Linked DNA regions of Homo sapiens. The protein of the gene in region 4 interacts with the protein of the main gene of each other region in a biochemical or structural test. Each region holds a gene or a part of one and is shown on either strand. Other genes may lie near its edges.

The links.
Region 1: the proteins of SP1 (region 4) and SMAD4 form a complex in vitro, tested with the Homo sapiens proteins (one study listed by BioGRID).
Region 2: the proteins of SP1 (region 4) and RORA form a complex in vitro, tested with the Homo sapiens proteins (one study listed by BioGRID).
Region 3: of the proteins of SP1 (region 4) and PRKCZ, one has a biochemical effect on the other in vitro, tested with the Homo sapiens proteins (one study listed by BioGRID).
Region 5: the proteins of SP1 (region 4) and KLF6 form a complex in vitro, tested with the Homo sapiens proteins (one study listed by BioGRID).
Region 6: the proteins of SP1 (region 4) and NAP1L1 form a complex in vitro, tested with the Homo sapiens proteins (one large-scale study listed by BioGRID).
Region 7: of the proteins of SP1 (region 4) and MAPK1, one has a biochemical effect on the other in vitro, tested with the Homo sapiens proteins (2 studies listed by BioGRID).

The regions. Positions count from the first base shown.
Region 1 is NC_000018.10:51,057,567-51,061,591, reverse strand, and holds part of SMAD4 (mothers against decapentaplegic homolog 4), read right to left. Parts: intron 3,468-4,025; coding exon 3,348-3,467; intron 3,253-3,347; coding exon 3,136-3,252; intron 1,727-3,135; coding exon 1,676-1,726; intron 1-1,675. UniProt on the Homo sapiens protein: In muscle physiology, plays a central role in the balance between atrophy and hypertrophy. When recruited by MSTN, promotes atrophy response via phosphorylated SMAD2/4.
Region 2 is NC_000015.10:60,501,540-60,505,564, forward strand, and holds part of RORA (nuclear receptor ROR-alpha), read right to left. Parts: coding exon 3,969-4,025; intron 2,129-3,968; coding exon 1,996-2,128; intron 1,329-1,995; coding exon 1,221-1,328; intron 1-1,220. UniProt on the Homo sapiens protein: Nuclear receptor that binds DNA as a monomer to ROR response elements (RORE) containing a single core motif half-site 5'-AGGTCA-3' preceded by a short A-T-rich sequence.
Region 3 is NC_000001.11:2,168,806-2,172,830, reverse strand, and holds part of PRKCZ (protein kinase C zeta type), read right to left. Parts: exon of another isoform or gene 3,381-4,025; intron 3,338-3,380; coding exon of another isoform or gene 3,314-3,337; coding exon 3,227-3,313; intron 777-3,226; coding exon 641-776; intron 531-640; coding exon 443-530; intron 1-442. UniProt on the Homo sapiens protein: Calcium- and diacylglycerol-independent serine/threonine-protein kinase that functions in phosphatidylinositol 3-kinase (PI3K) pathway and mitogen-activated protein (MAP) kinase cascade, and is involved in NF-kappa-B activation, mitogenic signaling, cell proliferation, cell polarity, inflammatory response and maintenance of long-term potentiation (LTP).
Region 4 is NC_000012.12:53,403,713-53,407,737, forward strand, and holds part of SP1 (transcription factor Sp1), read left to right. Parts: intron 1-2,872; coding exon 2,873-3,041; intron 3,042-4,025. UniProt on the Homo sapiens protein: Transcription factor that can activate or repress transcription in response to physiological and pathological stimuli.
Region 5 is NC_000010.11:3,778,425-3,782,306, forward strand, and holds part of KLF6 (Krueppel-like factor 6), read right to left. Parts: intron 3,791-3,882; coding exon 3,217-3,790; intron 1,806-3,216; coding exon 1,682-1,805; intron 1,167-1,681; coding exon 1,115-1,166; 3' UTR 1-1,114.
Region 6 is NC_000012.12:76,074,323-76,078,347, forward strand, and holds part of NAP1L1 (nucleosome assembly protein 1-like 1), read right to left. Parts: intron 1-4,025. UniProt on the Homo sapiens protein: Histone chaperone that plays a role in the nuclear import of H2A-H2B and nucleosome assembly.
Region 7 is NC_000022.11:21,805,008-21,809,032, reverse strand, and holds part of MAPK1 (mitogen-activated protein kinase 1), read left to right. Parts: intron 1-1,186; coding exon 1,187-1,369; intron 1,370-2,993; coding exon 2,994-3,183; intron 3,184-4,025. UniProt on the Homo sapiens protein: Serine/threonine kinase which acts as an essential component of the MAP kinase signal transduction pathway. MAPK1/ERK2 and MAPK3/ERK1 are the 2 MAPKs which play an important role in the MAPK/ERK cascade.

The DNA.
Region 1 (4,025 bases), on a different chromosome or scaffold from region 4:
TAAAATTCTTTATGCTTGACTTATACACAGTGGAGTACTATTCAGCCATAAAAAAAATGCGATTCAGTCACTTGAGACAACATGGATAGAACTGGAGGTATTATGTTAAGTGAAAGAACCCAGGCAAAGAAAGACAAACATCACATGTTCTTATCTGTGGGATCTAAAAATCAAAACAATTGAACCCATAGAGACAGAGAGTAGAAGGATGGTTACCAGAGGCTGGGAAAGGTAGTGGGGGATTGGGGGAAGGTGAGGATGGTTAATAGTACAAAAAGTAGTTAGAATGAATAAGGTCTAATATTTTACAGCACAACAGGGTGACTGTAGCCAATAATTTAATTGTACACTTTAAAATAACTAACAGAGTATAGATTGTAACACAAAAGATAAATGCTTGAAGGGATGTATACCCCATCTTCCATGATGTGATTATCATGCATTATATGCCTGTATCAAAACATCTCATGTGCCCCATAAATATATACATCTCCTATGTACCCACAAAGATCAAAAATAAAATCATTTAAAAATATATTTTTTTAATTTTTCAAGCTTGGTGTGGTGGCTCACGTCTATAATCCCAGCACTTTGGGAGGCTAAGACAGGAGGATCACTTGAGGCTAGGAGTTCGAAACCAGCCTGGACAACATAGCGAGATCCCATCTCGGAAAAAAATAAATAAATAAATAAATAAATAAAATTATTAGCAGGAGGACTGCTTTAGCCCAGGAGTTCGAGACCAGCCTGGGCAACATGGTGAGACCCTGTTATCTACTAAAATACAAACATTAGCCAGGCATGGTGGCCCTTGCCTATAGTCCCAGCTACTCTAGAAGCTGAGGTGAGAGGATCGCTTGAGACTAGGAGGTCAAGGCTGTAGTAATCTGAGATCATGCCACTGCACTCCAGTTTGGGCAACAGAGCCAGGCCCTCTCTCAAAAATAAACAAGTAAAAATAAAAATATAATTCTTCATAATTTTCTTTTAATTAGGAGGAAAATTGAGTTTATAGTTTCCAAAAAATTAAGGTGATTAGCTGAAGTAATATATTTGCATCTTTTTATGCTAAGAAAAACAGATACGAAAGGATGAGAAAAAAATTCAAAATCTATGTTTGTGTTACAAGGGACTTTCAGTATTTTATTTTCAAGTGTTTTCTGTTTTATTACCTCTACAGTTTCAAAAATTATACACAAACTTTGAACTGAAGAAAGCTACTTAGCGATTTACTCTTTTGCATACAATTTAATCAAATAGTTTCTAAATTCCAGTTAACCAGAGATCCTGAATAGAGTGAATTATTTTTCTTTTCGGCATGTACTTAAGATTCTTTCCTGGCTTTTTAAGCTATAGTTTTACAGCTGTTCTATTTTGAAACCTAGTTTTATTCTGCTGCATATTTATGTATTCAATGCTGAAGTCAGCATTTCTGTAATTCTCATTTTAGCTGAAAAGATAGTTCTTTTCTTTTGGGGACAGTTAAACTGAATAAAATATAGACAGTCTATGTGTGACTATATTGACTACTCAAACTGTTGATTAACTCATGTCATGATGAGTATTGTACTCATCTGAGAAGTGACCCCATAATTCCATTAAAGCCTGTGTTTGTGCGTTTCAATCACCACTAAATCAATCTAAATACAGGAAATCAATTTTGAAATACACTTACCAGGATGATTGGAAATGGGAGGCTGGAATGCAAGCTCATTGTGAACAGGCCCTAAAGAAAAGACAACAAAAATTCCATTTTTATTTACTAAAAGTTGTCTAATGCTAAAACTTTCAGTAAATCTTACTTAAATATAACTATTATAGGTTAGGAATTGTTTAAAACAAGCTTATGCAATGTCTAAGAACTTAAAAGTTTACAATAAGCAAATAGTCTTAAACTATTAATACTTTTGTGGATATTTAATAACTAACATTTCAGTGCTATCTGCCAAGTGCTATTATTACACAATTTACACATAATTTTATATCCAACATTTAATACAGATCATAAATGAATTATTCATGTAACGTCCAATACAGTACAATTTATAATGCAATGTATAATAATAAACTGTTAGGTCTATTCTAAAAACAAGTGCTTATGTTAATTAAGGATGTTTATTTAATGGAATCATAGCTAACATAATTGAAAACTGGTAATGTGTTAAAACACTGTGCTAAACACCTCACATAAATTATTACGTTTACTTCTTACGAACACCCCTTGAGGTAGATACTACTATTATTACTCTTGAGGCTTAATGAGGTGAAATAACTTGTCAATGGTCACACAGCCTGTTAAAGGTCCAAACCCAGCACCCTTCAACACTATGACGGCCTAGGCAGCCATTAAAAATTACATTCTCTTAAGAAATGGAAAAAATAGTAACATAACTGAAAAGAAGCAAGATATATACAATACACATAGAGTAGGAGCCCCTGTCAATTTACATATACCTGTTTATATGACTGGAAGGAAAATAACAAAATATTAGAAGTGGCTGTTTTTGAGTAGCAGGATTCAGGGTAATTTTGCTTTTCTTATTTATACTTTTCTATATTTTCTAAGTTTTCTTTGGTACTATTAATATTATAATGAGAAGAAAGGGATTTAATGTATATAAGAGTTATACTCTCGATTTTACTAAGCCATATGAACAATGCTCCTATTCTACCTGAAACTACATGTTATCTGTAGGGTATTCCTCCCAATCATGCCAGCACAGAGTTATCTATAGATTCAACATTATCCAAAGTACACTGAATACTACGCTGAGGGAAACCTTGAGAACTTAGCACTCAAAGGGTTTCAATCCATTATGCGTGGATATACAAGACACAGATGAGATCTAAGAACATATACAAAGCAAACAAACAAATGAATGGAAATCAATGTGATGTTAATGAAACATTAGCAACAGAGAAATAAATGTATTTAGCAAACATCACTCCTCTAAAATAAAAAGGTAGGATAACTATGAAAAATAATACTGTTTACAAAAAATACTGAAAAGCACTATTTAATGAAACAAAATCACAGGATGAATAAAAGATGTAAAAACATTTTTAAAAAACAGAAAACAAAGCCCTACCAAAAAAAAAAAAAAAATAGCCCTTACAACAAAAACAAGAGCTTACAGTAATGTCCGGGATGGGGCGGCATAGGCGGGTGGTGCTGAAGATGGCCGTTTTGGTGGTGAGGCAAATTAGGTGTGTATGGTGCAGTCCTACTTCCAGTCCAGGTGGTAGTGCTGTCTAAAAATTAAGGCCCACATGGGTTAATTTGCTTTTATAAAGGCTGCCTACTTTTTTCTCAACTATTTAAAAGATTTTTTAAAGTATGTACATACTATGATGGTAAGTAGCTGGCTGACCAGTAAATCCATTCTGCTGCTGTCCTGGCTGAGGCCCTGATGCTATCTGCAACAGTCCTTCACTATGGCTGCCCCCCAGTATACTGGCAGGCTGACCTAGAGGAACAAGAAGACATTAACATGGTACATTCATAGATGTCATCTTATGATTTCATATACTAAATGAAGGACCAATTTTATCTGATAATGCACAACTATAAAGATGGGCAAAAAGTGTAACTCACCCATGGCCTATCAGGTAAAAAACCTACAGTCATCTATAAAGGCAAACTTTAACTTGAGGAAGCTCAAAATTATTCCATTTTAGGTAATGTCTAACTAATTGTAGTGGCTTATTTCTTCACAAACATATTTCAAATGCCAGCAAAACACCACTGTACGTCTGGCCTATCATATTAACTTCTTCAGAGGTATGTCAGTTCATCCTGGCCACTCCATCCACCTCTCTCTCTGGACCTTTCTGATTAGGACCCCAAAAATCCAGGCTCAAGAAAATGTTGAAAACTGAAAAATTAATCACTATCAGCACTGATACTAGTAATGGCAGAATGCTAGGGTTTGACAGAGAAAAGCAGAGCAGAAAATTATTTTAAATAGGATGTGATAGTGAAGATGAGGAAGTTAAAAAGATCTAGCTCTGCTGTCCAATCAATA
Region 2 (4,025 bases), on a different chromosome or scaffold from region 4:
AAGAAGCAAAGCTAGGCTGACTGATTTCAGAGCCTACACTTTTAACCTATAGAGTCTAATAGCCATATTCTAACTGATATGTTAAATTAACTCATTTTTGTTTTCAACTCTATTTCATCTGAAACATCCTTAAAAATGTTAACAAATGACATATTCTGGTGGTAAAACTATTATAACTATTTACCAACCTGAAAACACAGAATGTGAAAGTCCCCTAGAATAATAATCCGTTTTCCAAAAGACTGGTTAAGTTTGGTGTCTATTCCTTCAGATTTGCATATTTTACATATAAATGTATATATTTAAATGACAATGTGCTACATGACAGTTCATTATATATATCATCTGTCATATAACTTTTAAAAAAATCACTCATTTTAGATACTTATCCATTCTTCTTAATAACTATGTTCATTTTATTTAAATTATAGAAATCCAAAATTTATTATTAATTATTCTGAGACAGAGTCTCAATCTGTCACCCAGGCTGGGGTGCAGTGGCATGATCTCAGCTCAGTTAAACCTCCACCTCCCGGTTTCAAGTGATTCTCCTGCCTCAGCCTCCTGAGTAGCTGGGACTACAGGCGTGTGCCACCATGCCCAGCTAATTTTTGTATTTTTAGTAGAGATGGGCTTTGCCATGTTGGCCAGACTGGTCTCAAACTCCTGACCTCAGGTGATCCGCCTGCCTTGGCCTCCCAAAGTGCTGCTATTACAGGCATGAGTCACCGCACCTGGCCCCAAATTATTTATTATAAATTATATATCATGGTTTCACTTAACTGTAACTTTTATTTCTTTGATATCTGCATTTCAGTCTCATTAATGGTTACTGTTTGAGGGGGATGGAAGGGCAAAGCTTTTGCCCTTTGCTTAATTTTATGTATCAGCTCACATCCTAAAGGTCATCCGAATAATATATCACCAGCAAATCTGGTTTCTTAAAATCTGGAAGGGAACTGGAAGGACACGTCATATAAATCCCTTTGATTACCAACTAGATAAAATGAAACTCTACATCTTTACAAGTAATGTAGACAAAAAACTTTTGAGCTATATGACTTTTCTACAGTGACTAACTAGAAAGTAAAATAGGTATAAAACCCCTTAATTTTTGTTTCTAAATAAAGTTTTCATTTTGTCCAAGCAGAGCTTTCACTCAACCCGCATCTTTTCCTATAGCCCTGATTTGAAGAAAAGGCACCTTGATATCCCCTTACCTAAGGATTTGAAGACGTCGGGGCTGGCATACTTCCCATCAAAGTACACGGTGTTGTTCTGAGAGTCAAAGGCACGGCACATTCTGATAAACACCACCTCTAGAGAACCTAAGCAGAGGCAGAAATGGTTTGGGTCATTTGGGTCATCTGATGTTAGTGAGTTTGTTTCTAAGCTGCTCATGTAGAGACTCCTTCTGCAACAGCATGGTGGGTGTCGTGTGCAGTTTAGCTAGCGGGTTCTCAGTCACATCAGCTGTCTATCCAAAAGGGCAGAGTTTTCTATGTAATTAAAAGACTGTTGTGCTGAAGCTAAGCCCTGTTTAACTGAAGTGAGGGTTGATTTATAAATTACTTCCTTAGCACTCTTCTACCTCGCAATGCAGAGTCTCAGAGTTGCTAGGAAAGCATTTATTCATATGTACTAAAACCAAGAATCAAAAACAAGTATATCTTTCTGAGTTCTACTTTCTTCTTCCTAACATCATAAACTCGGAGGACTTGGAGTGTAGAAACAAAACACACGTGATGGGAAAATTTGGGAATGTAGGTGACCTTCAAATTAATCTTTTCACCCAGAAGAGAAGAAAAGTGGGGGGAATGTTTCCTGAATATATCTTAAAACCTTTGAAAAGAACTCCATTTCTGCTAAGAAAAACCTGAGCTATTATCATTGGAGAAAAACTGTTCCCGACACCTTCCTTACCAAGCATTTCTTTAATAAGCGGGTGAAAGCAGGTTAGGAAGAGATCTCAAAATTCACTTGCAAAGCACATACCTGCTTTTAGAAGCACAATTTGATCATTTTGACACAGTTCCATAAATCCATCAATGCGTTTGGCAAACTCCACCACATACTGTATAGCTTCTGTAATTTTGATGGCACACAATTGCCACATCACCTCCCGCTGCTGTTAAAGAGGGAAACACATTAACATCCTCCAGGAAGATGTTAGCTTTTGTAGCAGAAGCTGCAGAGTTATGAAAGCAAAGCATGCCACTGCTTTAGCCCTGGGCCACGAAGAGTGGCAAAGTGGGATCTTATTTTATTTTATTTTATTTTTGAGATGGAGTCTCGCTCTGTCACCCAGGCTGGAGTGCAGTGGAACAATCTCAGCTCACTGCAACCTCTGCCTCCTGGGTTCAAGTGATTGTCCTGCCTCAGCCTCCTGAGTAGCTGGGATTAGAGGCACCTGCCACCACACCCAGCTAATTTCTGTATGTTTAATAGAGACAGAGTTTCACCATGTTGGCCAGGCTGGTCTTGAACTCCGGACCTCAAGTGTTGTCTGCCTGGGCCTCCCAAAGTGCTGGGATTACAGGGATGAGCCACCGTGCCCGGTCTGGATCTTCTTTTAAGTAATTATTTTGCCTTGGGAAATTTAACACCACTTTACTTTGGGGGAAGGGAGAAAAGGAGAATCAACTGAATTTATTGTGCACCTACTATGAGCTAGGCGCTTTATGACATCCTTGTTTTAATTCACTTTCATAAGAATATTTTTTCTGGCTGGGCACGGTGGTTCACGCCTGTAAACCCAGCACTTTGGGAGGCCGAGGCAGGGGGATCACTTGAGGTCTGGAGTTCAAGACCAGCCTGGCTAACATGGTGAAACCCTGTTCCTACCAAAAATACAAAAATTAGCCAGGCGTGGTGGTACACACCGGTACTCCCAGCTACTTGGGAAGCTGAGGCAGAAGAATTACTTGAACCCGGGAGGCGGAGGTTGCAGTGAGCCGAGATTGCGCCAGTGCAAGTGTCAGCTTGGCGACAGAGTGAGACTGTCTCAAAACAAAACAAAACAAAAAACTGGTGGATATGGGAGCCAGGATTCAAATCCAAGCATCTCTGACTCTAAAATCCTATTTCATATACTTTGTTGCTTCTTACTGTTTTCTTGCTTCTCCTTTGTAGCTTTGGCTGCTGGCATTACCTGCTACCTCAAAGGCAAACAAAGCAATGTGTTGCTATTCCCCAACATGTCCTGTTAAATTCCTTTTATATTCGCACTCTCCATTTCAGTTACAGAATGGTCTGGATCTTTTTCGTTGCTAACTTGTTTCCCCAATCTTAGTTTCAGACTGTTCCCACCGATATGATGGGGTGGAAGAAACACTGAATTAGGAGCCAGGAGTCAAGGTCTGGTCTTGATGTTTCACTCTCCAGACATGCCAGTGGATGTTAGTTTTCCTCAAATGTAAAATGGATTCACTTAGATAATCTTGTTGATCTGGGTGTTTTACAGAAAAAGGCAAGTAGGGTACTATTTGTCAGCCTCATATTGCTAGGTTCAGACTGGAGTTATGATCACAGCTTCTAAATTTTTTTTGTATATACTCCCTAATACAACTTCCAGAAACATGAGGCTTCCTTGTCAACTTCCAGAAACATTAGGCTGAGATTATTTTACATAAACTTCCAGACCTTAAAATCTTGATTGTGATATTGAGACAATTCTCAATTCATTTAGACTTTTGGAAGCTGCTTAATCTATTCTCCTGTTGACAAATGGAAGGAGGTATGTGTATACCTAGAAAGCACAATAGAAATTATTTGCTATTGCTGAAATTTTGCATCTGAGTTAAATGGCAAAGCCTCAAGTACATTAGTAGCTTCAGAAAAAAGATATTTAAACAGAAACCTGATGACATTCATTCTTTAGTCTGTGTGAACTCTTGACCAACTTTCCTATACCAACACCCTTCCCAATATTGCCTCAATCCTAGGAGGAAAAATTCCTCAGATCATACCTTGTTTTGATAGTTCTCAATTTCTTCCTGTAAAAAGGTCTGCCACGTTATCTGCTG
Region 3 (4,025 bases), on a different chromosome or scaffold from region 4:
AGGGGAGAGGAGCAGAAACACTCTGGTGTGCACGGCGTCCTCAGCCGCAGGGCCTGTGGGGTCCTGTCCACACGCTCCTGCACCCCCTGGGGCTCCCCAGACAACAGCTTCTCCCCCAGCCACTCGTGCAGCACGGGGACTCAGGTGCTGCACCCTGTCCCACCCCCGCTTTCTGTGTCTTTCCCCTCCCTGTGCCCCGGGGCTCCCTGGCAGGAGGAATCCTGTGCAGTGCCCTCCCCAAGGAGCTGCTCAAGTGGACATGGGAGGTTTTCCAGAATTCAAATAAGGGGCTGAGGCCAGATGATGACATCCGGCTGGGAAAGACAGTGTGTGGCTTTTGGGTGTAAGATGGTCAAGGACACCTCTCCCTGGCTGCTGGGCCAGGCCCGAAGCCATCTCTGGCCCTGTGTGCTCCGAGAGGGGCCAGGGCAGCGGCACTCACCGTACTCCTCTCCCCGCAGGATTTCGGGGGCGATGTAATTCGGGGTTCCGCAGAAAGTGCTCGTTGTGTCACCAGGGCCCAGGCCTTCCTGTGGGGGCAAAGTTACTGGGAGAGGGTTCTTGTAGACACTACCCCGCGGGACAGGCGCCCCGAGACGCACATGCGGGATGGTCAGGGGAGGCGGTCCAAGGCACGCACCTTGCACATGCCGTAGTCTGTGAGCTTGATGTGCCCGTCCGCATCCAGGAGGACGTTGTCCAGCTTCAGGTCCCTGTAGATGATCCCCCTCTCGTGCAGGAAGTTGAGGGCGATGCAGATCTCGGCCGCGTAGAACCTGGGGGTGGGGATGCCGTCATGGGGGCAGTGCCTGTGCCAGAGGCTGCGCCAACAGCTCCAGCCTGGGGGCCACACACTCCCGTTTGCCCCACCACGGGCCCGGCATCCTCTCAATGACCAGGCCCAGGATTTGAAAGTGCAGTGCACAGGGCCAGGGAGGGAAATGCCAATGAAAGCTCCAGGACACCACCCCATGCGCCTTAGGATGGCCTGCTGTCAAAGACACAGAGAACGATGTGGCAGCCTCCACAAGGGGAGGAGCGGGCAAATAACACGACAGCTTCCATGCGGGAAAGACCGGAGCCATGGCACGTTGTGGTAGGAGTGCAGAACAGCGCCGCTGCTGCGGAAGACAGTCCGGCAGGTCCTCGAAAATTAAACACGGTGCCAGGCTTGGTGGCTCACACCTGTAATCCCAGCACTTCGGGAGGTCGAGGCAGGCAGATCACCTGAGGTCAGGAATTCAAGACCAGCCTGGGCAACATGGCGAAACTCCGTCTCTACTAAAAATACAAAAAAATTAGCCGGGTATGGTGGCGCACACCTGTAGTCCCAGCTACTCTGGGGGCTGAGGCAGGAGAATCACTTGAACCTGGGAGGCAGAGGCTGCAGTGAGCTGAGATCCCACCACTGCATTCCAGCCTGGGTGACAGAGCGAGACTCCATCAAAAAAAAAAAAAAATTAAATATGACCTTTTTTTTTTTTTTTTTGAGACAGAGTTTCACTCTGTCACCCAGGCTGGAGTGCAATGGCGCGATCTTGGCTCACTGTAAGCTCTGCCCACAGGTTCACGCCATTCTCCTGCCTCAGCCTCCCGAGTAGCTAGGACTACAGGCGCCCGCCACCACACCTGGATAATTTTTTGTATTTTTAGTAGAGACAGGGTTTCACTGTGTTATTTCACCGTGTTAGCCAGGATGGTCTCGATCTCCTGACCTCGTGATCCGCCCGCCTTGGCCTCTCAAAGTGCTGGGATTACAGGCGTGAGCCACCACGCCCGGCCTAAATATGGAATTCTTATGTGGTTAGCAATTCAGTTTCTGGGTGTATACCCCAAAGAACCGGAAGCAGGGTGTTCAAGAGATTACTTCACACCCATGTTCACAGCAGCACTGTTCACCATGGCCAACATGTGGATGCCACTCAAGTGCCCCCCGAGGGATGGACGGATAAGCAAAGTGTGGCCCCTCCATCCAACGGGGCATTATCCAGCCTGAAAAAGGAAGGCAATTCTGAGACAGGCCACAGCACGGATGAATCTTGAGGACGCTATGCTCAGGAAAATGAGCCACCGAAGGACCAACACTGTGATTCCACTCCGATGAGGTCCCTAGAGTCCTCGAATCAGAGGGACAGAAAGTGGGACGTGCCCGTCTGGGGTGAGGATGTGAGGCTGGGGCGGGGGACAGGGAGGGAGTGTCTGATGGGCCAAGCTTCAGCAGGGAAGAGGGGCGTGCTCTGGAGATGAGACGGGGGCCAGCAGTGGCTGCAAAGCATGGGGTGCATTCAACGCCACTGAATTCCATGCCCCAAAATGCTACCTTTTATGTTGTGTGTTGCCACAGTTTTTAAAAACAGCGTTGTGGGAAGTGTACTGTTCTAGATTTATTGCCTACTGTCCTATTGCCAGAAACAATCTAAGGTGACTCACAAAACTGCATGCAACGTTCTTAAGTAAGGAAATGAGGAAAAGGAGAAACTACAAAAGACAGGAAAGGTCCAGGGAGCTGAAATAAGCCCCCAAACGGTCCTGGAGGTCCCGCGGCTGCCGGGGGAGGCTCCTGAACCATGCTGGAGGCCCCTCGGCTGCCAGGGGAGGCCCGAAGATATCAGAGATGAAAGGGAAGGGCAGGAAGGAGTCTCTCAGGTCACTCTAGAAACAGACCACTCTCGTTCTGCTCCTAACGCTGAGGAAATGCTGGCCATGCTGTGCCACTAACAGGGTGAAGAGCAGAACCAGGGCAGAGCCACCATGAAGACAGCACAATCCCAGGAGACTCTCACTTCTCTCGGATGAGGCATGGTGCTGCTTCAGGGGTGGGGCCTGGGGGACTGGTCTGAGGCACCATAACTCAGGAGACCTCCCAAATGTTGTGACTCTGGAGCAAATATGGAATGTGTCACAATGCAGGGGACGTCACACTGTGGGGGACATGATGCCCTCTGCCATCCTACCTGGACTTCCCTCCCTTGAGCTCCCTGCTGACCCCTGGAGAAGGTCCCCGGCCCCCTCCACGTGCACCCCGCCCCCCCCGCCCCCGTCATACCCCCTCCGTGCACACCCCACCCAGCCACCTCCCCTCTGCGCACACCCACCCGGCCCCCCAACTCCGCGCGCACCCACCCGTCATCCCTCTGTGCGCACCCACCCAGCCCCCCAACACCGCACGCACCCACCCATCCCCAACTCCGGGCGCACCCACCCGGCCCCGTCCACGCGCACCCACCTGGCGTGCTCCTCAGGGAGCTTCCTCTGCCTCTGCATGTGGAACATCAGGTCCCCGCCGTTGACGTACTCAATGACCAGGAACAACCTGCAGGGAGAGAGGCGCCGGAGGCTGCAGTCACCTCGGCAGACGGCGGCCTCCTTAGACAGAAGCCCCACAGAAGCGGCCTTCGTGGGCCCGAACCCTCCCGCAGGTTCAGTCTTGCAAAGAGCAAAGAGCAGCAGGAGCACCCTGGCAGCAGAGAGGGGCTGGTGGGGACGGGCTGCGGGGCCGCTCGTGAAGGGTGCAGGTGAGGGAGTCATGCGGGGGCCTCGCCGGCCTTCACTCTTGGCCACTGTGTGTGGACTTGGGAAGTGTGGGTGGGCCCCGGAATGAAGGAGGTGGCCCGTCACCAGGTGGGAGTGGAGGTGGCTTGGACCAGGGCTGGGGGCTGGGACAGGATCTGCTGGGGGCTGGAGCGAGGCAGTTTCTTGCATGGGGACAGCACCGCAGGTCACGGGTGGGGTGGCCTCAAGGCCTGATTTCATTGCTGCAAGGCTGAGGAGTCCACCGGCCCTCCAAGGGAACAAGCTGGGGTCAGGGAGAAGCCAGGTGGGAAGTGGCATCCCGGTTTCGCAGACATGATCGTATGATTTTAAAAGATCCGCAGATGTCATCAGGACCACGCAGGCCCTTCCCGTCTCAGGGACTGGGCCACATGGTTTCTCTTCCTAATAAGATCTTTTCCTACATTTCATGAGACTCAATTTTCAAAATTAAATTCTCATACAATCTCCCAGAAATACCCTGTGGCGGGTTT
Region 4 (4,025 bases):
TAATACTTATTTATAGTAAATGCTTTGAAAATTTGAGAAAGGCTAGGCAGCAGTAGCTAATGTCTATAATCACAACAGAACATTTTGGGGGGCTGAGGCGGGAGGATCACTTGAGCCCAGGAGCTCGAGATCAGCCTGGACAACATGGTGAGACCCGGTCTCCTTAAAAAAAGGAAAGGCCGGGCACGGTGGCTCACGCCTGTAATCCCAGCACTTTGGGAGGCCGAGGCGGGCGGATCATGAGGTCAGGAGACCAAGACCATCCTGGCTAACACAGTGAAACCCCGTCTCTACTAAAAATACAAAAAGTTAGCCGGGCGTGGTGACGGGCGCCTGTAGTCCCACCTACTAGGGAGGCTGAGGCAGGAGAATGGCGTGAACCTGGGAGGCGGAGCTTGCAGTGAGCCGAGATCGCGCTACTGCACTTCAGCCTGGGCGACAGAGCGAGACTCCGTCTCAAAAAAAAAAAAAGGAAAGAAGTCTTGAGAAGAATATTATCTGCCACTTTATAAGATATTACTTTTGCGAAGAATATTATCAGCCGGGTGCGGTGACTCACGCCTGTAATCAGCACTTTGGGAGGCCAAGGCGGGCGGATCACAAGGTCAGGAGTTCGAGACCAGCCTGTCGAAGATGGTGAAACCCCATCTCTACTAAAAAAATACAACAAAATACAAAAAGTAGCCAGGGGTGGTGGTGGGTGCCTGTAATCCCAGCTACTCAGGAGGCTGAGGCAGGAAAATCGCTTGAACCCAGGAGGCGGAGGTTGCAATGAGTCAAGATTGTGCCATTGCACTCCAGCCTGGGCAACAAGAGTGTAACTCAGTCTCAAAAAAAAAAAAAAAAGAATATTATCTGTCACTTTTTACCAGTGGCCTAGAGCTGTGTTTGAAAATGTCAAATGTGACCAACTGAGTCATGATGAGAGTCTAAAGCATTTTAGCATACACTGTTTATTTATATATATTTTTTTGAGTTGGAATCTTGTTCTGTTGGCCAGGCTGGTGTGCAGTGATGTGATCATAGCTCACTGTAGCCTTAAACACCTTGGCTCAAGCAATCTTCCTCCCACCTTAGCCTCCTGAGTAGCTGGGACCATAGGCGCATGCCACCATGCCCAGCTAATTATTATTATTATTTGGCGACGAAGTCTCGCTCTGTCGGCCAGGCTGGAGTGCAGTGGCACAGTCTCGGCTCACTGCAACCTCTGCCTCCTGGGTTCAAGCAATTCCTGTCTCAGCCTCCCGAATAGCTAGGATTACAAGCGTACTCCACCATACCCAGCTGATTTTTTTTGTTTTGTTTTTGTATTTTTAGTAGAGATGGGGGTTTTACCATGTTGGCCAGGCTGGTATTGAACTCCTGACCTCAAGTGATCCAACCACCTCGGCCTCCCAAAGTGCTGGGATTACAGGCGTGAGCTACCATGCCCAGCCTATTATTTATTTTATAGACAGAGTGTCCCTATGTTGCCCAGGCTGGTCTTGAACTCCTAATCTCAAGCAGTTCTCCTGCCTCAGCCTTCCAAAGTGCTGAGGTTACAGGCAGAACCACATGTAAATATATGGGCATTGCTGGTTCAAATTAGATGTACATTTAAATATTTTCAAACTGGCCTTCAAAAAGTTGTATTAATTTATCACTATTTGTGTATGAAAATGTCTCTTTCCGGCTGGACATGGTGGCTCATGCCCACCCGTAATCCCAGCACTTTCGAAGGCCGAGGCGGGTGGATCACCTAAGGTCAGGAGTTCGAGACAGCCTGACCAACATGGTGAAACCCCATCTCTCCTAAAAATACAAAAAAGTTAGCCAGTCATGGTGGCATATACCTGTAGTTGCAGCTACTTGGGAGGCTAAGGCAGGAGAATCACTTGAACCCAGGAGATGGAGGTTGCAGTGAGCCCAGATAATGCCACTGTACTCCAGAGCCAGCGAGACTCTGTCTCAAAAAAAGAAAGGAAAGAAAAGAGAGAGAGAGAGAAGGAAGGAGGGAAGGAGGGAGGGAGGGAAGGAAGAGAGAGAGGGAGGGTCTGTTTTCCTGTACCCTTACCAATGCCGTATGTTATTAGGGTTTCAACTTTTGGTAATCTGATAGGTGAAAAATTACAAATGCGTTATAAGTGGAGTTGCATTTTAAAAACTATGATCGGGGGAGGGATAGCATTAGGAGATATACCTAATGCTAAATGACGAGTTAATGGGTGCAGCACATCAGTATGGCACATGTATACATATGTAACCTACACGTTGTGCACATGTACCGTAAAACTTAAAGTATAATAATAAAAAAAAACAACTATGAGATTTGATCAGATTTTTACGTATTTATTGGCTCTTGGTATTTTCTTTCTTTTTTTTTTTTTTTTTTTTTTTTGAGACAGAGTCTTGCTCTGTCACCCAGGCTGGAGTACAATGGTGCAGTCTCGCTAACTGCAACCTCCGCCTCCCGGGTTCAAGCAATTCTCCTGGCTCAGCCTTCCAAGGAGCTGGGATTACAGGCATGCGTACCATTCCCAGCTAATTTTGTATTTTTAGTAGAGACGGGATTTCTCCGTATTGGTCAGACTGGTCTTGAACTCCTGACCTCAGGTGATCCGCCCACCTCGGCCTCCCAAAGTGATGGAATTACAGGCGTGAACCACTGCGCCCAGCCACTCTTGGTATTTTCAATGATGATTCTTGAGATTTCAGTGAGTCTTCAGGTGTCAGTGAATGGAATGGCTAAACATAAAAAGGCTTCAAAACTTGTGATACTGTGAATGTAGGATGTCAGTTCAAAAGAAATGATGTTGTGACTGTAGGGTATCACTGAGATGCCAGTGATAACCTGCCCATGTCACATGTTGACCCTTTTCTCTCTTAATTTCAGGTGATCATGGAGCTCAGCTTGGTCTCCATGGGGCTGGTGGTGATGGAATACATGATGACACAGCAGGTGGAGAGGAAGGAGAAAACAGCCCAGATGCCCAACCCCAAGCCGGTCGGAGGACCCGGCGGGAAGCATGCACCTGCCCCTACTGTAAAGACAGTGAAGGAAGGTGAGTTGACCCAGCCAGTTTCTTACAAATATAAAGAAAAATTAATAGATTTGGAGATAAGAGGAAGAAGATTAATTTTTTTTTTTTTTGAGACCGAGTCTGACTCTGTTGCCCAGGCTGGAGTGCAGTGGCGCAATCTTGGCTCACTGCAAACTCCACCTCCTGGGTTCACGCCATTCTCCTGCCTCAGCCTCCCGAGTAGCTGGGACTACAGGCACCTGTCACCACACCCAGCTATCTTTTTTTATTTTTAGTAGAGACAGGGTTTCACTGTGTTACCCAGGATGGTCTCGATCTCCTGACCTCGTGATCTGCCCGCCTCGGCCTCCTAAAGTGCTGGGATTACCAGCGTGAGCCACCATGCCCGGCAAAGGTTAATTTTTTTTTTTAGGATTTAAGACTCAGAGCTGGATGCATATAATCCCAGCACTTTGGGAGGCCAAGATAGGAGGATCACTTCAGCCCAGGAGTTTGAGACCAGCCTCAGCAAGAAAGCGAGAGCCGATCTCTACAAAAATTTAAAAATTATGTGGGAATATTTTACTGGCCATAAAAAGAGAAAATGAAAAAAAAAAAAATTTTTTTTTTTTCTGAGACAAAGTCAGTCTGTGTTTCCCAGGCTGGAGTGCAGTGGCACATTCTTGGCTCACTGCAACCTCCACCTCCTGGGTTCAAGCAATTCTGCCTCAGTCTCCCGAGTAGCTGGGACTACAGGCGTGTGCCACCACGCCCGGCTAAGTTTTTCTATTTTTAATAGAGACAGGGTTTCACCTTGTTAGCCAGGATGGTCTTCATCTCCTGACTGTGTGATCTGCCCACCTCGGCCTCCCAAAGTGCTGGGATTACAGACGTGAGCCACTGCACCTGGCCAAAAAAATTTATTTATTTATTTTTTTGTTTTGAGATGGAGTCTTGCTCTGTTGCCCAGGCTGGAGTGCAGTGGCACAATCTTGGCTCACTGCAGGCTCCGCCCCCTGGGTTCAC
Region 5 (3,882 bases), on a different chromosome or scaffold from region 4:
AAATTTTAGGTTCTTAAGTCTAATGAAACATTAGACCAGCAATTCCCAGCCCCAGCTTTGTGACACTCAATACGTGTCCAATTTCTTCTAAGGGCATCACAGAATTCTCCAAAAAGTTAATTCAAATTCAGAATCATTTAAAAATAATCCTGTGTTGCACAATGCCTTTCTGGAAGGGGAGTGTTACAAACTTGGAGGGGAAAAAAAATTGTATATTGCCAGGCCCGGATGGCTAGGGGGTCACTGTATTAGACAGATTGGATCTTAGCTGCTCATTAACTGGAATCAGTATTGCAGTCCTGACTTAAAAATGGAAAAGCATATAGTTCCCCAGACCATGCATGACTTTTTGTATTCTAAGGAAAAGTTAAATTGTTGTGTTATATTTGTAAATACACAGCTTATACAATGGGTTACAAATGAGCTATGTTGTAGCGTGTAAAACAAGCTACTTGACACATTGCACATTTAATAGCTGCACCAGACACTAAGAGTTCCTCTCACACAGAAAAGGGGGAGAGAGGCTCTCCCTCCCCACACCACTCGCCACTCTGGGGTCCTGAGTTCCCACGCCCACCCTCCAAGATTTTCCTTCTTTTTTTGTTTTTGTTTTTTTGTTTTTTTGATTTTTCTTTTTTTTTCTAAGGTGCAGACACCCCCTCCCCCCAAGGAAATGATTGGTGGTCATCTCATCTCATGGTATACTCCTTACACACAAAACATTCAAACTACTTTTTTTCCATCTCTTGCAGTCTTGCTAACCACAAGGAAAAAAAGTTGGCCTCATCATACGGTCAGTAATAGATCCTCAACATACAATCAACCCAACCATTAGCATTCTCAGTGTGCATGCTCACGGCAAAGGCTTAGGCGCCGCTCGGAAGGGCGGGTACCAGTGGCGAGTCCAGGGTCACCCACATACCATGCACCACGGGTGCTATGCCGCTTCTTACAGGACCTTTTTAGCCCTCAAAAGACCTTCCAAGGAGAGGCCCTGGAGGCAACTGGGTAGGGTGCAGAACGGCATGCTTTGGCTGGAACACGCATCCCTCCTTCCACGGCCGGCTCTCAGCCTGGAAGCCTTTTAGCCTACAGGATCCACCTCTCTGCTCCCTCAGAGGTGCCTCTTCATGTGCAGGGCCAGGTGGTCAGACCTGGAAAAACACCTGCAAGGGCAAATCAGAAGCACAGAAGAAGTTAGGTTCCCATCCCTTGCCAGTGTTCTGGACCAGCGCCCTCACCTCCCTGCCCTGCCCAGCCTAACCCCCTGCAGGGAAAGGTGGGATTCTCCTCCCAAGCCTCATCAGTGTCTTCAGGGACAGGAGATACCAACTGATAGGAATGTGAATTAAGAATGTCCCCCACCAGTGGCTGGAGGTTCTTTGGAGAATCTGAACGGACTTCATTTCTAATTCTTCAAATATGAAAACTGTTGAAAGGCCAATCTCCAAACATATCAATAAACTGACTCCAATGTCAGGTGTATGTGGAACAGTTCTTCCTAACCATGGACAATGAGCACACCAGAAACTTTCTAAAAAGTCCCAGGCTTGAAAAGAAATGTTCACACATAGGAAACTGCATGCCTTCCTTCGAATGTGCCCTGCACACCTACTCAACCCTGGTCATCACATTCCCAAGGCCCCACGCTCCTTGCCCAGCATTGTCCTCAGGCACGTACCTGTCACAGTGGGAGCATTTAAAAGGCTTGGCCCCGGTGTGCTTTCGGAAGTGCCTGGTTAACTCATCACTTCTTGCAAAACGCCACTCACACCCTTCCCATGAGCATCTGTAAGGCTTTTCTCCTGGGGAGAGAGCACAGGACAAGCAGCCCATGACTTCACTGACCCGCAGACGGAAAGGGGAAATTCAACAACACACACAGTGGTGGGATGCAAGGCCAGGGACCCAGTGGCTTCTGGCATCGGTAACACACAACAACTGGCAGCCTCAGAGAGACAACAGCAGCTCTCTCCTGACCCAGTCTCAGGCCTCCCACTGCTGTCCAAGGGACACAGCTTCAGCCAAGCCCATGGTGCTGTCATCAAAGTTAACGTGGAAGAACGACCACGACTCAGACCAGCAAAATGCTTGCGGGATGAGGTGTCAGCCTGCCGGACCCACAGCCCCGGCAAAGGCAGAGCTATTGCTTTCTTCATGGCAACTGTTTCTCCCAAACACACTTCTGTTCCATCCTCACTTCCCTATGGAATGTGCCTCTGCAGTTTCCTCAGGGACGTTCTACCTTTCTACAAAGCTGAAGTTACGAGCTTCTGGAAAGCCCCAGTACAGGGCCCCGGAATCATTCTCTAAATGGCAATTGAACAACTGGGTTCACTTCATTCCTTGGTCAAATCATAAATATGAATTTACTACAAGTGCTACCTGAGAAAACAAAGTTGTCAAGCCAATCTCAGGGTATGTTGAGACAGGCCTGGGCCTGGATATTGGGCCACCCGGATCTCAATCTCAGCTGTCACCAAGCCTGTCTGGGACTGACTCTCAGCAATTTGCTCTCCTACTGATAAGAGAAGAGCCTGCATCACGTGATCACTAAGACCCTTCCCAGTTCTAAATGTTCTGTGATTCCTCACCAATTATCCTAGAACATGTCAAGGTATTTTTAAATAGCACTTTCACCTAGGTATGGCATTTCATTAAGAAACTGTTTCAAGCGGTATCAGAAACAAAGGCTGCATGAGACACGGAGAAGTTCTCAGGAAACACTCGCTGATCAATGCTGCTGCTTACAGAGCAGGCCGGTCCCACTCGGGCCTCGGGCCGTCAGCATCAAACCCACACACTCCACGCTGCCCAGCAACCCTCTGTCCTGACCCTTGAGTTTCATTTAGGAAACCCCAGGGCCGCTCGAGGTAGCCTCGTGCGAGTGCACTGGTGAAGGGGCAGTGGCCTCGGATCCCCAGCACTACTAAGGGGTGGGGGGTGGAGGTTTGGGTGTCCGTGGAGAAAAGGATCTAGTCTCTTGTTTGTTTAATCTGAAAATTGTTACACATTTATCCAACTCAAAAGTCCAGTCTTTAGGATTCTACTCTGAACTCCAAAAAGACCTAATGCTTTGGTGGAAAACATCTGAGGAAGTGAGGATTTGTCTGCCCTGACCACATCCTGTGCAGCCAGGCCCGGCTCCCTCCAGGGCTGGTGCAATGCAGTGGCGCCCACCAGCGGCCGCCCTCCGGGGCCCGCGTGGGCACTGACCTGTGTGCGTCCGCTGGTGTGCTTTCAAGTGGGAGCTTTTGGTGTAAACTTTCCTGCAGCCGTTAAAGTGGCACCGGTGCACCCTCCTCCTGCCGTCGGGGGAGGCATCGCCATTTCCCTTGTCACCTGGCTTCCCCGAAGTCCCGCTGCGCACCTTCCCTGGCGAGGGCAGCTCCCCGGGCACGCAACCCCACAGTTGAGAAGGTTCCCTGCTCAGTTCCGGAGAAGATGGAGGCGTGGAGGTGACAGAGGAGCTCAATTTTCCCGAGCTGACCAAAACTTCGCCAATGGGGTCGGAGGTAAACTTGGCCGTGGGAGAAAGTTCCTCGGAGCTGTCAGAGGATTCGCTGCTGACATCTGAGTTCAGGCTGTTGGTCTCTAAGTTGTAACAAAAGCTCGGGCTGATGAGAGTGTCCTCTGGAGGACTGGAAGATATCTTCAGTTCGGATTCCTCCTTTTTCTCCCGAGCCAGAATGATTTTGGTCCACAGATCTTCCTGGCTGTCAAATTTGATTTCTGAGGCTGAAACATAGCAGGGCTCGCTCTGGAGGTAACGTTCCAGCTCTAGGCAGGTCTGTGCAAAATGAACCAGAGAAGGCACGTGATTGCCATGACGACCAAAAGTAAAAGCAAAAGCAATTTCCAAAAACATGCAAGAATGAAGGA
Region 6 (4,025 bases), about 23 Mb from region 4:
CCATACTGAAAACTATCCCAAGAAATGTCTATTTCCTTTAAAATACTATCAGTGTTAAGAAGAAAAAACTCATGGAACATGCAAATTCTTCCTTACTAGTACCAAAAATAATTTTTCAGAGGATATTACTTAAAACAAAAAAGTTACCACTAAGCTTTTAGAATCTGTTGTATAAAGACTATGATAATAGCACCATTGGTTAAAAACAAAACTAACATTTGCTAGAATCATAGGAAAGGAACAGTACAAAAGGATCTTCATTCAAATTCTTTCAACAATCAAGAAAGGTCAATTTCTGCTTAAATTTTTAGACTACGTAGCATCTTAAATCCATTTATCCATTTCGTATTTAGCAATATTCATTTTATGTAATTCATGTTTAAGAAAACCAAAATCTGATGCCTACTGTACTCACTATGCCCTCTGGATATCTTTTTAAAAGACTTAATCCCTGGATCAAATAGCCATTTAGACTATTTCAAAAGCTCTAGGTCCCAATCTTAATGTTAGGTAAGCCTTCCCTATCTCTCCAAATGTACATGTACCTCATGTTAGATAACTGACAACCACCAACCTCCAGCTTCCCCTAGATATGCTAGGGACATTGTCAAGACTTGTGGTTACCAGACCTGAGTAAGTTTACTGTTAAGACTCACCAGAGGATATCCTAAGTTCCTTCTCACTAAAAGATTAGTATGAACCTGGAGAATACTGCTTTTGGAAAAACAAATCTTAAAGCAGATGTGTTATATCCAGGCAGAAAAAAATGGTAGAATGCCACAGGTAATCTACAGATTACCAAAAAAAACTAAACCAAGTTTAGATAGAATCCATGTTAAAATCAAGTTTATCTTAGCCAGGCACAGTGGCACGAGCCTGTAATCCCAGCTGCCCAAGAGCCTGTAATCCCAGCTGCCCAAGAGACAGGAAGATCTTTTGAGCACAGGAGTTCAAGGCCTGCCTGGGAAATACAGCAAGACCCTGTCTCTAAAAAAATTATGAATAAATAGAATCAAGTTATCTGGTAAAAATTAAAATCTTAATACATATTTAATTCACAAAATCCTGCATGTGTTTACTTTCATAGCAACGTATTATGCCTATGAACAAAGAGTTAAAAATGGAAAACATCCTGATTTTAGCAGTTAAGTGCTAATATTTGGGGGAAACATTATTACTGACCTAGTATCTATCCTTTAGAGTAATTATAAAGAAAATTATTCTTCCTAATGTATCTAACTCTGTAAATATTTTGTATTTGTTATAAATAATTCCTAATAGTACTGATGAATTTTTCTAGTGATGCTGGGTAATGAGTCAGCATTTACAAAGTGTTTAGCAATTATGAATATTAATCAAAAATAAGAAAAATACTGAACTCTGACATCAAAGAAATCCAAGTAGGATTCCAGTTTGTCTACCACATCATCAATAACTTCTTTTTAATACAGGGAAACCTGTAGTGCACATGCATCCTTATTTCCAGCTAGTGTTCCCGTATCTTTTCTGGAGAGCAACCTGACAATAGGAATATCAAAAGCCTTAAACATGTCCATCTCAGCCAGGCACCATGGCTCACACCTGCAATCCCAGCACTTTGGGAGGCCGAAGCAGAAGGACCGCTTGAGGCCAGGAGTTCAAGACAAGCCTTGGCAACACAATGAGACACTGTCTCTTAAAAACATAAAAATTAAAAAAACAAAATATGTCCATCTCCAGATTTATTCACTTATGAGCTCTACCATGAAAAAATTATAAAGAATCTAATGCCTTTGCTTTCCATGTTCACCTAGAAGGTTCTTCCACAGCTCTGAACAAGTCCTGCACATCCTTTGGCTCTCATTTCAAAGTTTCACTCCCCAGAGATGCTTTCTCCAACCTGCACATTCCGGTTAAGTAAGATTTCTTGGTTGTACACACACTCCTATAAAGCTTTCTTTTCTTTCCACCATAAGATGTCTCAGTCTGTAATTATAAATTAGTTTGACCTATGGTCTGTCTCTCCCAACTGACAAAATTCATGATTACAGGAATTAAATCTGATCTTGACAATCATAGCGTTGTCTTCTTTGGGGTAGCACACAAAGCTTATTATAAACTTAGTACTATAATGGAATATGCAAAAATGGAATGCTTTGCAGTCACAAATGAAACAGATCTGAGTTGATATGAAGGAACACTAAAGCAAGGTATAGGATGTATGCCGAAATCCCCTTTGGATATGGAAATATATATATATATATATATATATATATATATATATATATATATCTCCACTCATATACGCACATACTTTAATACAAATAAACCCTTTCTGAAAACAAACACCAAAAACCTAACCAGAGTAACCTAATGAGAAAGAAGGGACTGGGGGTAATGAGAACTAATTTCCCATTCACCATTACAGTCATGTGTGGATTATATGTTCTGAGAAATGTGTCTCTGGGTGATTGTATTGTTGTTCAAACATCAGAGTATACTTACACAAACCTAGATGGTATAGCCTACTACGCACCTAGGCTATGATATAGACTATTGCTCCCAGGCTACACACCTATACAGCATGTGACTGTATTGAATACCATAGGCAACTTTAATATAATGGCTAAGTATTTATGTGGTGCATGACTGCATTTGGTTTTCCAACACACAGATTTATATAATAATTTCCAATACACAAATTTATTCTGAGATTTGCTAGGTTTAATATATAGTGTCTACTAAACCCAGCAATTGTCAAAAACAGAAACAAAACCTAAAACTTCCAAATTTAAATTTTTGTAACATTTTAATGTGTTCACAGAATGGCTACACTGCTAACCTCAATGTCCATTTGCAGCATTACATTTACAGTTTAAATTCTTAAAATGAAACTTTAGTAAAGAGGATCCAAGACAGAACATTTACAGAACATTAACAGGAGGCATTTACTCCTCCAGAGAAGGCTGCTCTAACCTGCCCATTCTGGCTACATTGTATTTCTTGGTTGTAAGATAGACCTAATTTTCTAGTCAGTTGTAGTCAGATCATTTGGGCTGACATCAACTTTGTAGCAATCTACAAACTAAGACAAACAACTTCTGGCTCTATTTCATCATCTATATAAAGCAGAAAAACATCTGAGGAAGTGGGACCCAAAAATCTGCATTCTAAACAAGAAACTCAGCTTCTGAGAGGTGGTTCTCAGGTAGACCACATTGAGAAACACAAGTTTAGGTTAATACCTGTATTAATATTTTACTGCAGTTGACATTAAATAAAATCAGTGAGAATCTTATTTGTTATACATTAAATTGCATTCCAAGATCTCTGTGAAAAACTTTCATTCCTGAAAGCGACAAACTAGATTATGCAGATCAATTCTACCAATGAAAAATATGGCCGGACGCAGTGGCTCACGCCTGTAATCCTAGCACTTTGAAAGTCCAAGGCAGGCGAATTGCCTGAGCTTAGGAGTTAGAGACCAGCCTGGGCAAAATGGTGAAACCCAGTCTCTACTAAAATACAAAAAATTAGCCGGGCGTGGTTGCACACACCTGTAGTCCCAGCTACTCAGGAGGCTGAGGCAGGAGAATTGCTTGAACCCAGAGGAGGAGGCTGCAGTGAGCCGAGATCACACCGCTGCACTCCAGCTTGGGTAAGAGCAAGACCCTGTCTCAAAAAAAAAAAAAAAAAAAAAGGAAAAGAATTAAAAGTACAGATGTTTTTTAACAAAAACATTTTGTTAAAAATCTTAAAAGCACTGAAATGCTAACAAGATAGTAAGGAATCACCAGCCCAAAACTGAGGGCAAAACAGGAGCAGAAGGAAGGCACTTTTGCACTGAGGTCAACTGCCAATTATCAGCAACGTGAACTTTGGTTTTAACCAAAGTTAAAATTCTGGGCCTGTCCACGGTGGCTATCTTTATGGTAACCCTCCCAAATTAAGCAGGAACCCCAAAATGCTATATCCTCAAGAATAAATTCATTCTCCTGGACAAACAGCCCAAATTTACCTCATCTGTATTGCCCTCCAAACCCCAA
Region 7 (4,025 bases), on a different chromosome or scaffold from region 4:
GAGACGGAGTCTCACTCTGTCGCCCAGGCTGGAGTGCAGTGGTACAATCTTGGCTCACTGCCACGTGCATCTCCCAGGTTCAAGTGATTCTTGTGCCTCAGCCTCCCAAGTAGCTGGGATTGTAGGCACTTGCCACCATGCCTGGCTAATTTTTTTGTATTTTTAGTAGAGGCGGGGTTTCACCATGTTGTCCAGGCTGGTCTCAAAACTCCTGTCCTCAAGTGATCCAGCCGCCCCAGCTTCCCAAAGTGCTGGGATTGCAGGTGTGAGCCACTGCACCCGGCCCTAGAAGCATAAATTTTAGAATAAAGTTATTTTACTGCTTTCTATTCTAGCACTTACCCCAAGGAAACAAGAAATGTTGTCTTACTGCCTGTCAATGTTATTTGATTGCTTTGGTCAGTGGGCCAGATGTTGACATTTATTAATATGAAAATTTCTTATACACAAGATTGTAATAGAATGTTTATCATAAAGATAGTAGTAATACTCAAGATTCAAATTCATAAAATTGAAGGTATAATTTTTATTATTGCTTTTGCTTATAATTCTGGTTTATCAGACATTAAGGACAACTAGGAAAGAACTGGGCCCCATGTTATTGCCACAAATATGTTTTTTGAAGAATACTTTTCTAGGTTTTGTTATAAAACTACCCAAACATCTTGATTCAGTTTCTTGGGGGAAGAAATGGTCATGTTGTTTTGCAAGTGAGAGAAACAAAGTTAATAGAAGTAATCAAGGTGTTCTCTTGGGTCCATTTTTGTTAGGGATAAAGATGTACAGTTGTAGGTTATTTGAATGTTTCTTCTGTGTCAGAGGAATTTGATACAACAGTAAGAAGGTGTTTCAGAGACAGAAGTGATTACTCTCACCAGAATGCAGTTGCTGTTTAAGACAATGGGAGAATGCTTGTTTGTGTATTTCTGGGTTTATAAAGGCAAGACTTTCACCCAGTTAACAGGGCTAGGTTCTCTGTTAGTTTTGAGAGTCACTGTGTGCTCTCTCATGTCAGTTGCATCCATCCTCCCTAGCTTGAGGCCTTTTTGTGGATAATATACATGCTGCCTTCACGGGTATGAAACAGGTGTTTACACAGTGTTAAAAATATAATACTTTACCAACTTGCCTTCTTCAAATATTCTGAGGGCTGTTTTTAATGCCATCTCTCTCTCTCTTTTTTAAGCTCTGCTTATGATAATGTCAACAAAGTTCGAGTAGCTATCAAGAAAATCAGCCCCTTTGAGCACCAGACCTACTGCCAGAGAACCCTGAGGGAGATAAAAATCTTACTGCGCTTCAGACATGAGAACATCATTGGAATCAATGACATTATTCGAGCACCAACCATCGAGCAAATGAAAGATGTGTATCCTTTTTAGGCAACTGGCCAATTCCACTGCTTGGTAACCTTGTTGAGTAAATAGAACTTGAAATTTCCTGAACTTAAAGGAAAAGTGCATTAAACATGCTAAAGGGAAAATCGTAATCTGTTTGCTATTTACTCCCTAAGTCTAGTCATGGAAAATCTTGGTTAACTCTGTTTGCAGTCATGTTTCTTCTGTCCAAGGGATGGTTTGTTGTGATGATGAAAAGGTAAAGGGAAGATCAGTAGTAGACTAAGAAAGAGGGTGCCCTGGCTATCTACCTGGTGAAATCAGGACTGTCCTGATCTTAAGAGTCAGGTTACCACTTTAGGTCTCAGTTTCCCCACCTTTAAAATGAAGGAACTGGTCGTCATGATCTTTAAGGTCAACTGAGGTCTGAAATTATGTGATTAACTCTGACCAACATTTAGAAATCTGGACTGAACAGATCTAGAGGATGCTGCCTGGGTAAAGGCTCCATTTGAAAGATAGAGAGGTTAAGTATACTGAAGAGGATCTGCCAGAAGGGAAAGGGTTATACAGCACTCCTACCAGTTTACCCAATTTGTATTCCGCCCCTCCAGGGTGCGGGAGCTCGCTGTTTCTAGGCAGCCCTTTCCATTTTTAAACAGCTCTGTTAATAAGTTGTAGTGATATTTGAAGTGAAATGCCTCCTGCCACTACCACCTGTTGGTCCTGCTTTACTTTTTGCCATGAAAATAAGCCTCTCTCAGATGACAGATTTTTAAATCATGTTTCCTTTGAATCCCATGCTGCGCCTCCTATAGCATAAATCTGTAAGAAACAGAGACTAGTGTTTACACAGAAGTGAGTAAAAGAAATGTAGAAATACTGCTAATGAAATAATACTATGATGAAGTTAAAGGCTAAATGCTTTAATAATTTAATTTCTGTGAGAAAGAAAGTAGCCATAGCTAAACTTTTAGGTAGTTAAGTACGTGACCAGGCAAGAAAGCATGAGGAGGAAAACTAGCACAAACCCCTTCTTAGAACGACTTGCCCATAGTCTTACTTATTTAAGATCTTAACAGTAATGGAAGAGTCAAGAAAATAGACTTAGGGTTGGATTTACTAGTAAGAGTATGTTTCTAGACCTGTATTTCTGGAAGTTTTATGTTTGGCTTTTGAGGAGCTTGGGAGAGGAGGGGAGCGGCAACAAGAAGTAAAAAGAATAGTGACATTACAGGTTACTGGACCAAACAGAGGAGGGAGTATCTGCTACTTACAGGCTAACAGTGTTTCCAGCAAACCTTGGAGGGGGTTCGTTGATGGTGGACAATTTAGAGAGCAAAGAGGTTGAGACTTCAAGATTGACCAGAATTTCCCTAACAGCCTGTTTCAGATCTCAGTCTAGGCCCATAGCCGCATCAGTCAGATGTAATGCTGGAATGCCTGCCATCTCACAGGACCTAAAAGGAGTTAACGACTTCAGATTCTTTCCATGAAGGAAACCAAGTTTTCCTCAGTTTCTTCTTTCCTTTAAGGGCTTCATGGTGTAATGATGGACTGTTTGGGAAGAGAGTCAAGAGAGGATGCATTTTTGTTTTCAATGCTTTGCTAAATGTGACCAGCTAATTGGTGTTTTACCTTAACCTGTGCAAACAGATATATAGTACAGGACCTCATGGAAACAGATCTTTACAAGCTCTTGAAGACACAACACCTCAGCAATGACCATATCTGCTATTTTCTCTACCAGATCCTCAGAGGGTTAAAATATATCCATTCAGCTAACGTTCTGCACCGTGACCTCAAGCCTTCCAACCTGCTGCTCAACACCACCTGTGATCTCAAGGTCAGCCAGGTTATTTACTATTAAGGTGATATATATTGAAAAACCCTTTCACTGAAGCATAGTTATATTTGTCATTATTCATATTTTAAATTACACCAGAAATACCCAAAAACATGTTTATGGCAAAAATGCTAATAAAGTGTGGTAGTCCTCTTCTTCTTCCTTATCCCATTGCTCCTTTCTCCCCAGAGATACCTTTTTTTTTTTTTTCTTAAAGACAGAGTCTTAGTATGTTGCCCAGGCCGGTCTGGAACTCCTGGGCTCAAGCAGTCCTCCTTTCTTGGCCTCCCAAAGTGCTGGGATTATGTATGTGGGCCACAGCACCAGGCCGTGATAACTAACTACTATAACAAATTGGTGGCCAGTTGCGGTGGCTCACGCCTGTAATCCTAGCACCTTGGGAGGCCAAGGTGGGCCTTATCACCTGAGGTCAGGAGTTCAAGACCAGCCTGGCCAACATGGCGAAACCCCATCTCTACTAAAAATACAAAAATCAGCCGGGCGTGGTGGCATGCGCCTGTAATCCCAGCTACATGGGAGCTGAGGTAGGAGAACCGCTTGAACCTGGGAGGCGGAGGTTGCAGTGAGCCGAGATCACACCACTGCACGCCAGCCTGGGTGACAAAGCAAAACTCTGTCCTAAAAAACAAAGTGTATTTTCTCCCAAAGTATTTTCTATGCTCTTGCATACATGTGTATTTTTATACTTTATATAGATAAACAGGATCACGTACATTATGTGTTAGTTTTTTTGTTCGTTTGTTTGTTTTTTGAGATGGAGTCTCGCTCTGTCACCCAGGCTGGAGTGCAGTGGCGCGATCTCAGCTCACTGCAAGCTCTGC